Regions from separate parts of the Homo sapiens genome. Here all the other regions are linked to region 1. The links come from fine-mapping of genetic effects on gene expression. A gene starts in region 1. Each other region holds a variant in brackets. All regions are shown on one strand. Distances are from middle to middle. Region 1 holds the start of PLA2G4B (phospholipase A2 group IVB). Region 2 overlaps LOC105370791 (a long non-coding RNA gene). Region 3 overlaps EHD4 (EH domain containing 4).

What was found.
Region 2: its variant is fine-mapped to the expression of PLA2G4B in thyroid (GTEx, PIP above 0.99).
Region 3: its variant is fine-mapped to the expression of PLA2G4B in whole blood (TOPMed, PIP 0.97).

What each region holds. Positions count from the first base shown.
Region 1 is chr15:41,836,454-41,840,628 of GRCh38, forward strand. PLA2G4B (phospholipase A2 group IVB) reads left to right here and starts at 2,394. Exons shown (of 20, transcript NM_001114633.2): 1 at 2,394-2,469; 2 at 3,705-3,777; 3 at 4,071-4,175. The coding sequence starts at 2,461. JMJD7-PLA2G4B (JMJD7-PLA2G4B readthrough) reads left to right here. Exons shown (of 25, transcript NM_005090.4): 6 at 22-98; 7 at 3,705-3,777; 8 at 4,071-4,175. JMJD7 (jumonji domain containing 7) reads left to right here. Exons shown (of 8, transcript NM_001114632.2): 6 at 22-98; 7 at 328-487; 8 at 615-1,128. The coding sequence ends at 703.
Region 2 is chr15:41,614,872-41,619,046 of GRCh38, forward strand. All of the region lies in intron 1 of LOC105370791 (a long non-coding RNA gene), which reads right to left. It also overlaps the pseudogene LOC124903614. Among named protein-coding and RNA genes, the nearest start is that of MGA, 43 kb to the right of the region's middle. The variant T/C (reference allele first, on the strand shown) is at 1,934.
Region 3 is chr15:41,928,271-41,932,445 of GRCh38, forward strand. All of the region lies in intron 3 of EHD4 (EH domain containing 4), which reads right to left. EHD4-AS1 (EHD4 antisense RNA 1) reads left to right here. Exons shown (of 4, transcript NR_120332.1): 3 at 80-236; 4 at 412-1,016. Among named protein-coding and RNA genes, the nearest start is that of EHD4-AS1, 8.9 kb to the left of the region's middle. RefSeq lists enhancers at 644-1,147, 1,110-1,189, 1,210-1,339. The variant C/T (reference allele first, on the strand shown) is at 1,595.

The DNA.
Region 1 (4,175 bases):
CCCTTCTCCCTTGGGCTCCAGAGCTGTACACGCCGGCAACCTACCAGCTAACTGAAGAGGGCACCTTTAAGGTGGTGGATGAAGAGGCCATGGAGAAGGTGTCTGTCCTGTTCTTGGGCTCTAGGGAGGGAGAAGGGCAGAAGCCTGGCTCTGAAGAACAGGCACAAAAGATCTGGGGAGGTGGCACCTTGCTCTGAAAAGTCTCTAAGTCTGAGGCCTTTCACTGCTGAGCCAAGCAGGGCCTGTGGTGTTGACCTTTGGAAGGGACAGAGCCTGAAGTCCTGGGGGGTCTGGGGGGCTGCTCCCTGGCATCTGATGTGTTCCCAGGTGCCCTGGATCCCACTGGACCCCTTGGCGCCAGACCTAGCACGGTACCCTAGTTACAGTCAGGCCCAGGCCCTTCGCTGCACGGTGCGGGCCGGTGAGATGCTCTATCTGCCGGCTCTGTGGTTCCACCACGTCCAGCAGTCCCAGGGCTGCATCGCAGGTGAAGAGTTGCCCAGGCCGCCTGGGGAGAGGCCCTGTCAAGGTCCAGCAGGGCCTCTGGGGGGAGGCTTGGGAGGCTCTAGGTCAGAAGAGGGATCTTCATGCTCAGATCCCCGTTCTTCCCACAGTGAATTTCTGGTATGACATGGAATACGACCTCAAGTATAGTTACTTCCAGCTGCTCGACTCCCTCACCAAGGCTTCAGGCCTTGACTGATGGAGCACTGGTGAACACCACCAAGCACGCCTCGGGGGACGGAGCCAGCCCCTCCCTGGCCAGGTCAATTCTCGAGAGAGCCTGGAGTGTGCATGCTGGCTGCTGGCCCCGGGTCCAGCATGGCTTGAGATCAGCTTTGGAGGATCTTGGAATGTGGTCATAAGGACTCAAGGTGCCAGGCAGGTCTGGGTGAGGGTTCTCAGGAAGTTGCCACACAGGTGAGCAGAGTGGGGATCAGGTGCAGCGGCACCTCTCCCCAGCGCTGTGATGTTGGGCGAGTCACTGCGTCTCGGGCATTGGTGTCCTGTCAGTAAAGAGATAATAATGGCTGTACCTCGCGGGGCTGTTGTGGGCTTGGAGATGATGTCTATGAGGACCAGCATGGAGCTGGCACACAGGACATGTTGAATAAAAGGTAGCTGTGAGTCGTATGTCCTTTTTTTTTTTTTTTTAAGATGGGGTCTCGCTCTGTCACCCAGGCTGGAGTGCAGTGGTGTGATGTCAGCTCACTGCAAGCTCCGCCTCCCAGGTTCACACTATTCTGCCTCAGCCTCCCAAGTAGCTGGGACTACAGGTGCGTGCCACCATGCCCGGCTAATTTTTTTGTATTTTTAGTAGAGACGGGGTTTCACCGTGTTAGCCAGTATGGTCTTGATCTCCTGACCTCGTGATCCACCTGCCTCGGCCTCCCAAAAGTGCTGGGATTACAGGTGTGAGCTGCTGCGCCTGGCTTATGAGTCGTATGTTCTGATCCTCCCTCTTGAAGTTGCCTTCTGTGGTCTAAGGAGGGCCTGAAGGTTCAGGTAAAAACTTCAGGGTGACCTTCACTGGGGGTGAGGGCTGGATCCCAGCCTGGGCCCAAAGAGCCGTCAGCTGCCCAAGTCCCGCTGTCCATGAGAGTCACCGCAGCCCCTCCCTGGGACAAGCAAGCAGACCTGAGTCTTGTAGCTCTCTGGTCCGGACCTCTTTGCCCAGGACCTTGAGAGCTATTCCTAGCTCTCCTATGGTTACTGTCCTCCCCCAGTTCAGGGGCAGCAGGTGGGACCTGGTGCCCTGGGGATAACCCCTGTTTCTCCCATAACAGGCACAGGCAGGAAGGGACGGAAGCCCCCGCCTCTCCTGGGGCTGTCCCTCTGAGGAAAGAGTTGGTCTCCACACGCTGACCCCCCCACAAACCATGCCCTGGAGGCAGAAGAACCCCCTGCCCCTGAGTGCCAACCCACAGGCCTCATCCCTGGCCACTCAGCACCTAGCTTTGAAGGGCTGTTTTATGTGACAGCCACTCCCCTGCCTGTCGTGAGGGGGCCCGGGTGTTCATCTCAGATTGATGGATCCCTGCCATCAAGACTGGGCATTCCTGTCCAACAGGTGCCAGAGTTGCGAAAGGCCTGTGACAGGGAACTCCACTCTTCCCTTGGCTGCTGTTCTGGGACTCACCCCTGCTTTCCTTCTGCTCAGCCCCTGGCAGCAAGCTCTCCAGGCTGGGATTGCAGGGCTGGGTGGGGCAGGCCCAGCTGGTAAAGGCTGGCGAGTGCCACAGAGGTATCAGGAGCTCTAGTATAGGCTTAGGGTGCCTCATTTCCTGGACAGGTGGCTGGTTCAGGAGTGGGTGTGGAGCTTAGGTGGAGCAGAGGCGGCGGGTAGGAGGGACTTGGGACCAATTGGGACATCACATCCCTGGCTCTGGGTTAGAAAGCTGACAGTCCTTGATCCTGTGGCCACTGCCCCATCATTCCTGCTCCTGAGGACTCAGTCTCATGGCTGTGGTAAGGCCTGGCAGGGCCCTGGGTCCCTACTGGGACCCCTGGTCTCTACCTGGGGCCTAGTTAATATGTTTCTTATGGGAGCTGTGGTCTTCTCCAGGGGTAGGGAGGGGAGTTTATTGACCACAAGACCAGGGTAGCGGGCAGAAGCCAGGGGAGGAGGAGGCTTGGGGATGAGGGATCCGTCCTGAGTGTTTTCTGTCCTGGGAACGGGCTCCTGGCAGAGCTCCCTGGCACCACAGATTTGGGCCCTGGAGACTCAGAGGCTCCCAGCTGCCGCCCTGAGGCCCTGGAAGCAAGTGGCTCCTCCATGCTCCTCTGACTCAGTTGCCTGGAGTGTGAGGGCCCTGGGCTGACCCTGGTGGATGAGGCCCTCCAGCACTGCCCTGGACCTGGTTGCTCCCTGGACTTGACCTGTTAGGGTCCTTGTGGAGGCAGGTGGAAGGCCGAAAGGAAGCAGTTGGCACAGGCTTCCCTGGTCCCGGTGCGCCTGCCAGGCTGCATTCCCAGAACCAGGGGCATGGGTTTGGAGGGAGCTACCGGGGGACCATCTTCAGCCTGACCTGGCAGGACCTGGAGGACATGACAGCCTGTGAGGGGTCTGAGCTAGGAGCCGCCTCCCCTGCCCAGGAGAGAGCCCATTTCCAGGATGCTCTTCTGACCAGGGTGGAGGGAGGGTACGAGAGCAGCTCAGCCTGGGGCCCAAGGCCCTGATGTGCTACTTCCCCTCCCTCGATAGCTTATGTCCCCTGCCACCCAAGACCAGCCGGAAAGCTGCTTAGCTGGGGTGTGGGCTGGGGATGTGGGGTGGAGAGCCTAAAGGATACTAGCCCGAGAAGGTGGAAGCAGGTCTGTGTGAGGCATAAATCTGGAGCCAGCCTGCCCGGGCTCCAACCCCAATTGTGGACCTCAGGCAAGTGACTGCTTCTCTGTGCCTCAGTTTCCTTGTGGAGTGGGCCATCGTAAATAGTATCTGTGCATAAGGTGGTTGTGCGATAAATGAGTTAATGTATGCAAAGCCCTTGGCCCAGAGCCGGCGCAGAGCATTGTGTAAGTGCTGGCAGGCGTCATGATGGAGATATCATGTCTCCTCTTGTTGATTCAGGATTCTGATGAGATGGAGGATGGGCCTGGGGTTCAGGATTAGGCCTTGAGGCACTGCTCCAGCCTCCTTTGTGGCCCCTGTCACCCTTGGCTTCATCGGCCCGTAGCAGGTCTCCCCTCTCCCACCTCTGCAGGCAGAGGTGTCCAGGACCTGCCTGCTCACGGTTCGTGTCCTGCAGGCCCATCGCCTACCCTCTAAGGACCTAGGTGAGTGCGCACCGCCCTGGCCCCTGTGCTGGGCTGAGGGAGGAGGAGGGTGCTGAGGAGGAGGGTGCTGTGGCTGGATTTGGTGGAGGCGGGTGGGCCGGTGGGCAGGGCCTAGAGGAGGGAGCTGAGAGGAGCTTCTGGGTGGAAGGTGGCAGCTGGGGCTCTGCCTCTGGCCCCCACTTCCCCTCCCCCTCAGTCTTAACCCACATGGGGCTCTAGGTGATGGAAGGAAGTGGGTCTGGGCGGCTGGGAAGGGCTCTTGTCCACCGCTGGGCACTTGTTCCTTCCCGCAGTGACCCCCTCTGACTGCTACGTGACTCTCTGGCTGCCCACGGCCTGCAGCCACAGGCTCCAGACACGCACGGTCAAGAACAGCAGTAGCCCTGTCTGGAACCAGA
Region 2 (4,175 bases), 220 kb before region 1:
TGGCTCATGCCTGTAATCCCAGCACTTTGGGAGGCCGAAGCGGGCGGATCACCTGAGATCAGGAGTTCGAGACCAGCCTGACCAACATGGAGAAACCCTGTCTCTACTAAAAATATAAAATTAGCCTGGCGTGGTGGCACATGCCTGTAATCCCAGCTACTAGGGAGGCTGAAGCAGGAGAATCGCTTGAACCTCGGAAGTGGAGATTGCGGTGAGCTGAGATCGTGCCATTGCACTCCAGCCTGGGCAACAAGAACGAAATTCCGTCTCTCAAAAAAAAAAAAAACAAAACCAAAAAACTCAAAAAACAAAACTGCAATAAAGCCAATTGAATTCTTTAAAAAAATATATATATTGGCCAAGACTACACTTTCAGGAATCATTTCTATAGTTTGTTACTAGAGAAGTTTCTCTGAATACGTAGAGCAAAATATATAATAAGACAAAAAGGGGGCCAGGCGCAGTGACTCATGCCTGTAATCCCAGAACTTTGGGAGGCCGAGGCAGGTGGATCATCAGGTCAGGAGATCAAAACCATCCTGGCTAACATGGTGAAACCCTGTCTCTACTAAAAATACAAAAAATTAGCCAGGTGGAGTGGCACACGCCTGTAGTCCCAGCTACTCAGGAGGCTGAGGCAGGAGAATCTCTTGAACCCAGGAGGCAGAGGTTGCAGTGAGCTGAGATCGCACCACTGCACTCCAGCATGGGTGACAGAGCGAGACTCCATCTGAAAAAAAAAAAGAAAAAGAAAAAGAAAAAAAGGCCTGTGGGCTGGGTGTGGTGGCTCATGCCTATAATCTCAGAACTTTGGGAGGCAGAGACAGGTGGATCAACCTGAAGGCAGGAGTTCGAGACCAGCCTGACCAACAAGGTGAAACCCCTGTCTCTACTAAAAATACAAAAATTAGCCAGGCGTGGTAGCAGGAGCCTGTAATCCCAGCTACTAGGGAGGCTGAGGCAGGAGAATCGCTTGAATCTGGGAAGCAGAGGTTGCAGTAAGCCGAGATTGTGCCACTGCACTCCAGCCTGGGTGACAGAGCAAGAATCTGTCTGAAAAAAAGAAAAAAAAATGAGAAAAATATATTGGTCAGCCTGGGCAACATGGCCAAACCCTATCTCTACAAAAAATACAAAAAATTAGCCGGGGTGGTGCTGCATGCCTGTAGTCCCACTTACTCCCTAGTAAGTGGGAGGCTGAGGTGGGAGGATTACTTGAGCCCAGGAGGTTGAGGCTGCAGTGAGCTAAGCAGCTGTGATCTTGCAACTGCCCTCCAGCCTGGGTGACAGAGTGAAACCCTGTCTCCAAAAAAAAAAAAAAAATTGGATTTTTGTTTTATTATTATTACAGGGTTTTTTATTTATTTATTTTTTTTAAGACAGAGTCTCACTGTCGCCCAGGCTGGAGTGCAGTGGCACGATCTCAGATCATTGCAACCTCTGCCTCCCAGGTTTGAGTGATTCTCCTGCTCAGCCTCTCTTGTAACTGGGATTATAGGCTCCTGCCACCACGCCCGGCTAGTTTTTCTTGTTGTTGTTGTTGTTTTTTTTTTTTGTTTTAGAGGAAGTCTCACTCTTGTCCCCCAGGCTGGAGTGCAATGGCGCAATCTTGGCTCACTGCAACCTCCGCCTCCCGGGTTCAAGAGATTCTCCTGCCTCAGCCTCCAGAGTAGCTGGGATTACAGGTGCTTGCCAACATGCCCAGCTAATTTTTGTATTTTTAGTAGAGACCGGGTTTCACCAGGTTGGCCAGACTGGTCTTGAACTCCTGACCTCAGGAGATCCACCTGCCTCGGCCTCCCAAAGTGCTGGGATTATAGGCGTGAGCCACTGCACCTGGCCATTTTCCTGTATTTTTAGTAGAGAGGGGATTTCACCATGTTGGCCAGGCTGGTCTCGAACTCCTGACCTCAGGTGACCACCTGCCTCGGCC[T/C]CCCAAATTGCTGGGATTACAGGTGTGAGCCACCGCACCTGGCCTATTACAGGGTTCTTAATATATTGTGGATTTTTGTCCTTTGTTAGATATATGTATTGTGACTACATGTTAATGACTCAGAAGTCTCAATATTAAAATATTAATTATTCATGAATTGATCTATAGATCCAATGCCATTCCACTAAAAATCCTAATTTTCATAGAAGTTGATGAGCCAATTCTAAAATTTACATGAAAATGCAAGGGCCAAGTGCAGTGGCTCACGCCTGTAATCTCAGCAATTTAGAAGGTCAAGGCAGGAGGATTGCTTGAGCCTAGGAGTTTGAGACTAGCCTGGGCAACATGGTGAGACTCCTGTCTCCATAAAAAAACTTCAAAAATTAGCCAGGTGTGGTGGTGCATAACCCTAGCTACTTGGGAGGCTGAGGTGGAAGGATTCCTTCAGCCTGCAAGGTCCAGGCTGCAGTGAGCCATGTTCATGCCACTGCATTGCAGCCTGGAATAGCCAAAACAGTTTTGAAAAAGATAAGTTGAAGGACCTATACTACCGACCTCAAGACATATTATAGTTACAGAAATTAAGGCAGCATAGCAGTAGTAAATGGACAAATTAGGTCAGTTGAACAGAATACAACCTAGAAATAGACCCAAACATATATAGACAATTGATTTTTGACAAAGGTGTTATGATGGACCAGCCTCTAATGATGGACCCTAATCTATCAGGTCACACTCAATAGAGATTACGTGGCATTGAATATCATGATTCCTACCTCCAGGTATTCACATCCATATGTAATCTCTCTTGAGTGTGGGCTGATAGGTGTCAGAGGATGTCACTACTAGAGTTAGGTTTAAAAGAGACTATGGCTTACATTTTGGGGTAACTGTATCTCTCTTGGATTGTTTACTATCAGTAAAGCTAGCTGCCATGTTGTAAGGTAGGCCTGTGGAGAGGCCTATGGGGCAGGGAACCAAGGCCTGCCAAGAAGCACAAAGGAGCTTGGAAGCAGACTCCCCTCACGTTGAGTCAAGCCTTCAGTTGAGACTACAACCCTGGCCAACAGCTTGACTGGAACCTCTTGAGACACTCTGAGCCACTGGCAACCTGGTATGCTGTGCCCAGATTCCTTAACCACAAAAACAATGAGGTAATAAGTATTTGTTGTTTTAAGCTGCTAAATTTTAGAGGTAATTTGTTATACAGTAACAGACAACTAATACAGATGTCAAGGTACTTCAAAGAGGGAAAATAATGTTCAACAAACAGTGTTGGATCAACTTGACATCATTATGAAATAAATGAATCTCAACCCCTACCTCACACCATACACAGATTTTTTAATTTTTATTTATTTTATTTATTTATTTATTTATTTATTTATTTATTTATTTATTTATTTTGAGATGGAGTCTCGCTCTGTCGCCCAGGCTGGAGTGCAGTGGCACCATCTCAGCTCACTGCAAGGTCCGCCTCCCGGGTTCACACAGGTTTTGTAGCCTGGCAAAGTTACTGGAATGGTGGTGATACTACCCATGTAGAGGAATGCTGTAGTACTTGTGTGTAGTGGTGAAGGGACGGATAATTAGCTTGGCTTTGGAAATGCTGAGTTTCAGATGTCTATGGGAAGTTCTGCCTAAGCGAATCCCTCCCTTTTTTAAGGGTAAATGATGAAGCTAGTAGAGGTTCTATGGAACCACTGGAAGGAGGCCAGGAAGACAGCATCCGAAATATTGTTATATAAGTGAAGAGCGAGTTTTGAGGTGTCTTTACTTTGAGATATTCATATAAAAATTTTTAGTCTCCTTGAAGTTCAGGCACAGGTGCCCTCTCTAATCGTCTATCAGCATTATTTTACTGCAATAATGTCTACAGCTCAGCATTTTAACATGTTAAGAAAAAAAATGAAATGAAGGTGGGAGACAATGTAAATATATATACCAACAGATGGGCAGTAGTCACCAAGGATTCCAAAAAAGATCTGTGGTACACGAATCTGTTAGTGTTCCTCTAGCACTGTCTAGGGGAGAAACAGAATAGTGGAGAAAAAAGATTCAACAATGTGCTGTATTGCACAGAGTACAGGGTGCTAGTTTGAATGCAACCTTACCACTAACGAGCACTCACATTCATAGAGTTCATCATATTTATCAGGGATTATGACAGGTGTTCTAAATATTTTGATCTGAGAATCATTATGACAATCCAAAGACAATCCAGGCCGGGCGTGGTAGCTCA
Region 3 (4,175 bases), 92 kb after region 1:
TGAGCTCCATATCACTACAATCTTGTAATCCTTGCAACAATCCCATGAAGTAGGTACTTTTATTACCCCCATTTTACAGGGGAGGAAAAAAGACTCAGAGAGGTTAAGTATCCGACCCAAGGCACACAGCTGTTTCTCAGGGGAGCCCGGATTCAAACCCAGGGACTCGGATCCTAGAGCCTGTGCTTTCACCCGCTGCGCTGCACCATATGTGTACCAGGATGGTAGAATCAGAGGTGAGTGTACTTTATTTTCTCCTTTTTGATTTGTGGTTTCCTAAGTGTTCTACAATGAATATATATTATTTTTATATCAAGAAAACAAATATGCATATTGTAAAAATTATTGGCCCACTTGCATTATTATTGAGGAGGTTGTTCTTTTTCTTCTACAATGGTGCTTCTGGTGAAGGTCTGGATTCCAGCATTTCCCTGCCAGAGGCTATGGTGGGTGTGCCGAGCACCACCCTGAGGGGGAAGCAGTATCTCAGCAACTACACCCCCGAGGAAGAGGCAGTCCCCAATCAGCGGGAGCAATGGGACCTGCTGATGACAAAATAAGCCACAGAATGAATGGCTCTGCTCCACTGGCCTTCTCTCCTCCCTGCCCCCTTTTCCCCAGCTGACCAGATGCAGGGCAGTGGCAGGGAGGGGCTGATACCAAACCCGGTCTGGGAGACTGCCCGGAGGGAACACAGGTTCCCAAGCTCCTTTTGGAGAGGCTGGATGTGAGTTCACCTCGAACCTTTCAGCTGGTAATGGCCACCTCTTGGAGAATGTAACTGGTTACCAGAAAACCCCAGAGGTTGTCTCCCAGTACCTAGCCTAAAGTGGGTGTGGCCACAGAACCTACCAAAATTTAAATAAAAGCAAGAACTAGGCGTGTCCAGGGATGGCGTTGTGCTGTTTATCCGCTCTCTGCTCTTCCCACTCCTCCTTCCTTTGGGATTTTGTCCAAGACTCTGTAAATTAATTTTTCTGTGCCTGTTTCCTCATAAAATAAACAAGCTAACCTCACAGCCTGTCCCTCCTTCCTCTGGGGGATATGTGACAATAACAGATGGGTGAGCCACATGTCCCTGAAGGCCCCTCCAGGGCAAGGGCGGGAGAGCCCCACATCACAGGTTCGTGCCACGCCACAGACATGGGAACAGAGGAAGGTTCCACGCCAGTACTCGGCCCACTGAACGCTGCTGCTTCTGGGCATGTGACCAAGTGAAAGGGAAAATTGGGTTTCGCATCTCACTTTCCATCTCAGATTAAATACCAGATGAAGAAGCAGGCCCATTTAAAGAAGGCTGAGCCCTGGAGAAAGACAGCAACATGGTATTATCAGTCATTTTAGGCTCTTTGCTGGAGAGGGAAGTTGGTAAAAAAACCTACCAAGAAAATCCTGTAAGTCCTGGAGCCTGGCTTAACAATTTCATTCTGCTGGGCCTCAGTTTCTATACCTGTGAGTCAGATGATCAAAAAGGATTCTTTCTAGATCTTAAATTTTAGCTATATAGGGTGGTTCCAAACAGTAAGCTTCTTTGAAATAAAAAGCCAGATTCCCAGGAAAATCGATTTAGCTCAGCGTCTGTATAGTACAGACA[C/T]GAACTAGTTACAGTGCCAGCCTAAGATGACCCTTCAGATGGCTACAGTAGACCCTTCAGATGGCTACAGGAATACTGAATGAACAACTCTAAATGACACAATTATCAAACAGTAAGTTTCATTTTATTACATCCCTTCTACTGGATTCATGTGCTATATAGCATTTGGGCCAATTTGAAGGTCCTTGAATGTTTCTATAGGTGTAATTAGTTGCCCCAAAGTTTAACTTATTGTCATCCAATTCCAAACAACTCTATACTGAAAGAAACTATCTGAGGAAGGGTTGTGGAATGTATGACTTCCAAGGATGCTTAAGAAGTCACCCCATCTAACCTTCTGATATTATTATATATTAGGATGAACAGATCCAGGAATCCCGTGTCACGCACATGGAAATTGTCCATTCCTCATTTTTCAAGTGGGCTTTGTGTATAAGTCAGGCTAGAAAGTCTCATACAATATGTCTATAAATCAGACGGAGTTGGCGTGGCAAACATTACTTGCACTGAATTTTCTTGAGGCAAAATGCCAACAGACTCCACCCAAATGTGATGAGGTCAAACATTTATAAGCAAGGCTTTGACCGTGACAATGCATCTTGTCATTCTGTGGTTCAGAAGGGCAAAGGTAATGTTTCTTCAGGCTACAGTTTTCTAAAGAGAAATGTTAAACCAACGGGATGACAACTGGGGTCATAAAGGGCTAGAAAGCAACTTCTGACCTGAAGACCCCACCCCTCGCCCTGCCCTGTTCCTCTTTTCAAACATCTTGGCATTGCACAAGTGTCCTGCATGCCTGTGGACAACAGCTGGCACTGCAGACCAGCTCTAGCAATTAAGTTATCAGCTAACCAGCTCCTCAAGCCAAACTATTACTCAGAGACAGTTATTTCTGGGCTTATGTCACAGATGGAAAGAAAGACCCAGTCAGTGGGAACCATGGGAATCCACACGGGGCTCCTTATAAAAAAATGACTCACTGATTTTGCTAAAAGTAGCCCATGTAGTTACCAACAGTATTTCAAAACAGTCAAATACCTCCAGAAAAGGAAATACTTTAAAAAGGTATACATGAAAAGATGCTCAACCACACTAACCATGAGGAATGAAAATTAGAATCATAATGAGATGGTGGGCATGTAAACAGGCATGCCTTCTACAGTGGCATTTTTGGCACCAGCTAACATAATAAAAAGACCGCCGCTCCTTTTGATTCCAAAATTCCACCTCTAGGAATGCATCTTAGAGTTACATCTGCACATTTTTTGGATTAGTCTCTATTTCATTTATTTTTTTACATTGATAAAGAAAAATTGTATATATTTATCATGTCCAACATGTTGTTTTGAAATATGTATACACTGAGGCTGGGTGCAGTGGCTCATGCCTGCAATCCCACCACTTTGGGAGGCTGAGGCAGGTGAATCACTTGAGCCTAGGAGTTTGAGACCAGCCTGGGCAACAAGGTGAAACCCCATCTCTACAAAAAATGCAAAACATTAGCTGGGCATGGTGGTGCATGCCTACAGTCCCAGCTACTCAGGAGGCTGAGGTGGCAGGATCACTTGAACCCAGGAGGTCAAGGCTGCAGTGAGCTGTGATCGTGCCACTGCACTTCAGCCTGGGTGACGGAGCTTCGAGATCCTGTCTCAAAATAAAATAAAACATAAAATAAAGTAAAATTAAATTAAAATAAAACAAAATTAAATATGCATTCAATGTGAAATGGCTAAATTGACAGTGCAATTAGCATATGCATTACTTCACATACTTGTTTTGTTGTGGTAAGAACACTTAAAATCTACTCAGCAATTTCTTTTTTTTTTTTTTGAGACGGAGTCTAGCTCTGTCACCCAGGCTGGAATGCAGTGGCGCAATCTCAGCTCACTGCAACCTCCACCTCCCAGGTTCAAGTGATTCTCCTGCCTCAGCCTCCTGAGTAGCTGGGATTACAGGCGCACGCCACCACGCCTGGCTAATTTTTGTATTTTTAGTAGAGACAGGGTTTCACCATGTTGGTCAGGCTGGTCTCCAACTCCTGACCTCGTGATCCGCCCACCTCAGCCTCCCAAAGTGCTGGGATTACAGGTGTGAGCCGCCGCGCCCAGCCAGCAATTTCTTTTTTTTTTTAAGCTCCTCCCTTTTCAGCAATTTTCAAGATATATTTGCACGTTATCGTGCCAACTGTATACACTTGCACCGTACATGCTAAACTGTGTAAATCCACTGTGGCACTGTTTGTAACGGCAAAAGATTAGGAACAGCCTGAATGTCACCCACCAAAAGGATGGCACCTATTAATTCTGGTCTATCTATATGATGGACTGCGGGAGGCAGCTCCGAAGTACAGACATGGACAAGCTCCAAGATTTACTATAAGTGGGAAAATCAAGACACAGGGCAGTGGAGCGAATCCCGCCAGGGCTCCACGTGAGTGGGCGGGTGAGCTGGGAGAAGCCCCAGGGTCTGCAGGCAGGGTCTGCTCTGGGAGAGGAACTGGGGGATATGGGTGGTACAGACATTCTTCACTATCTTTTTGTAGCCTTTTGTCCCAAGCACATACACACCTACCCACCGCAGG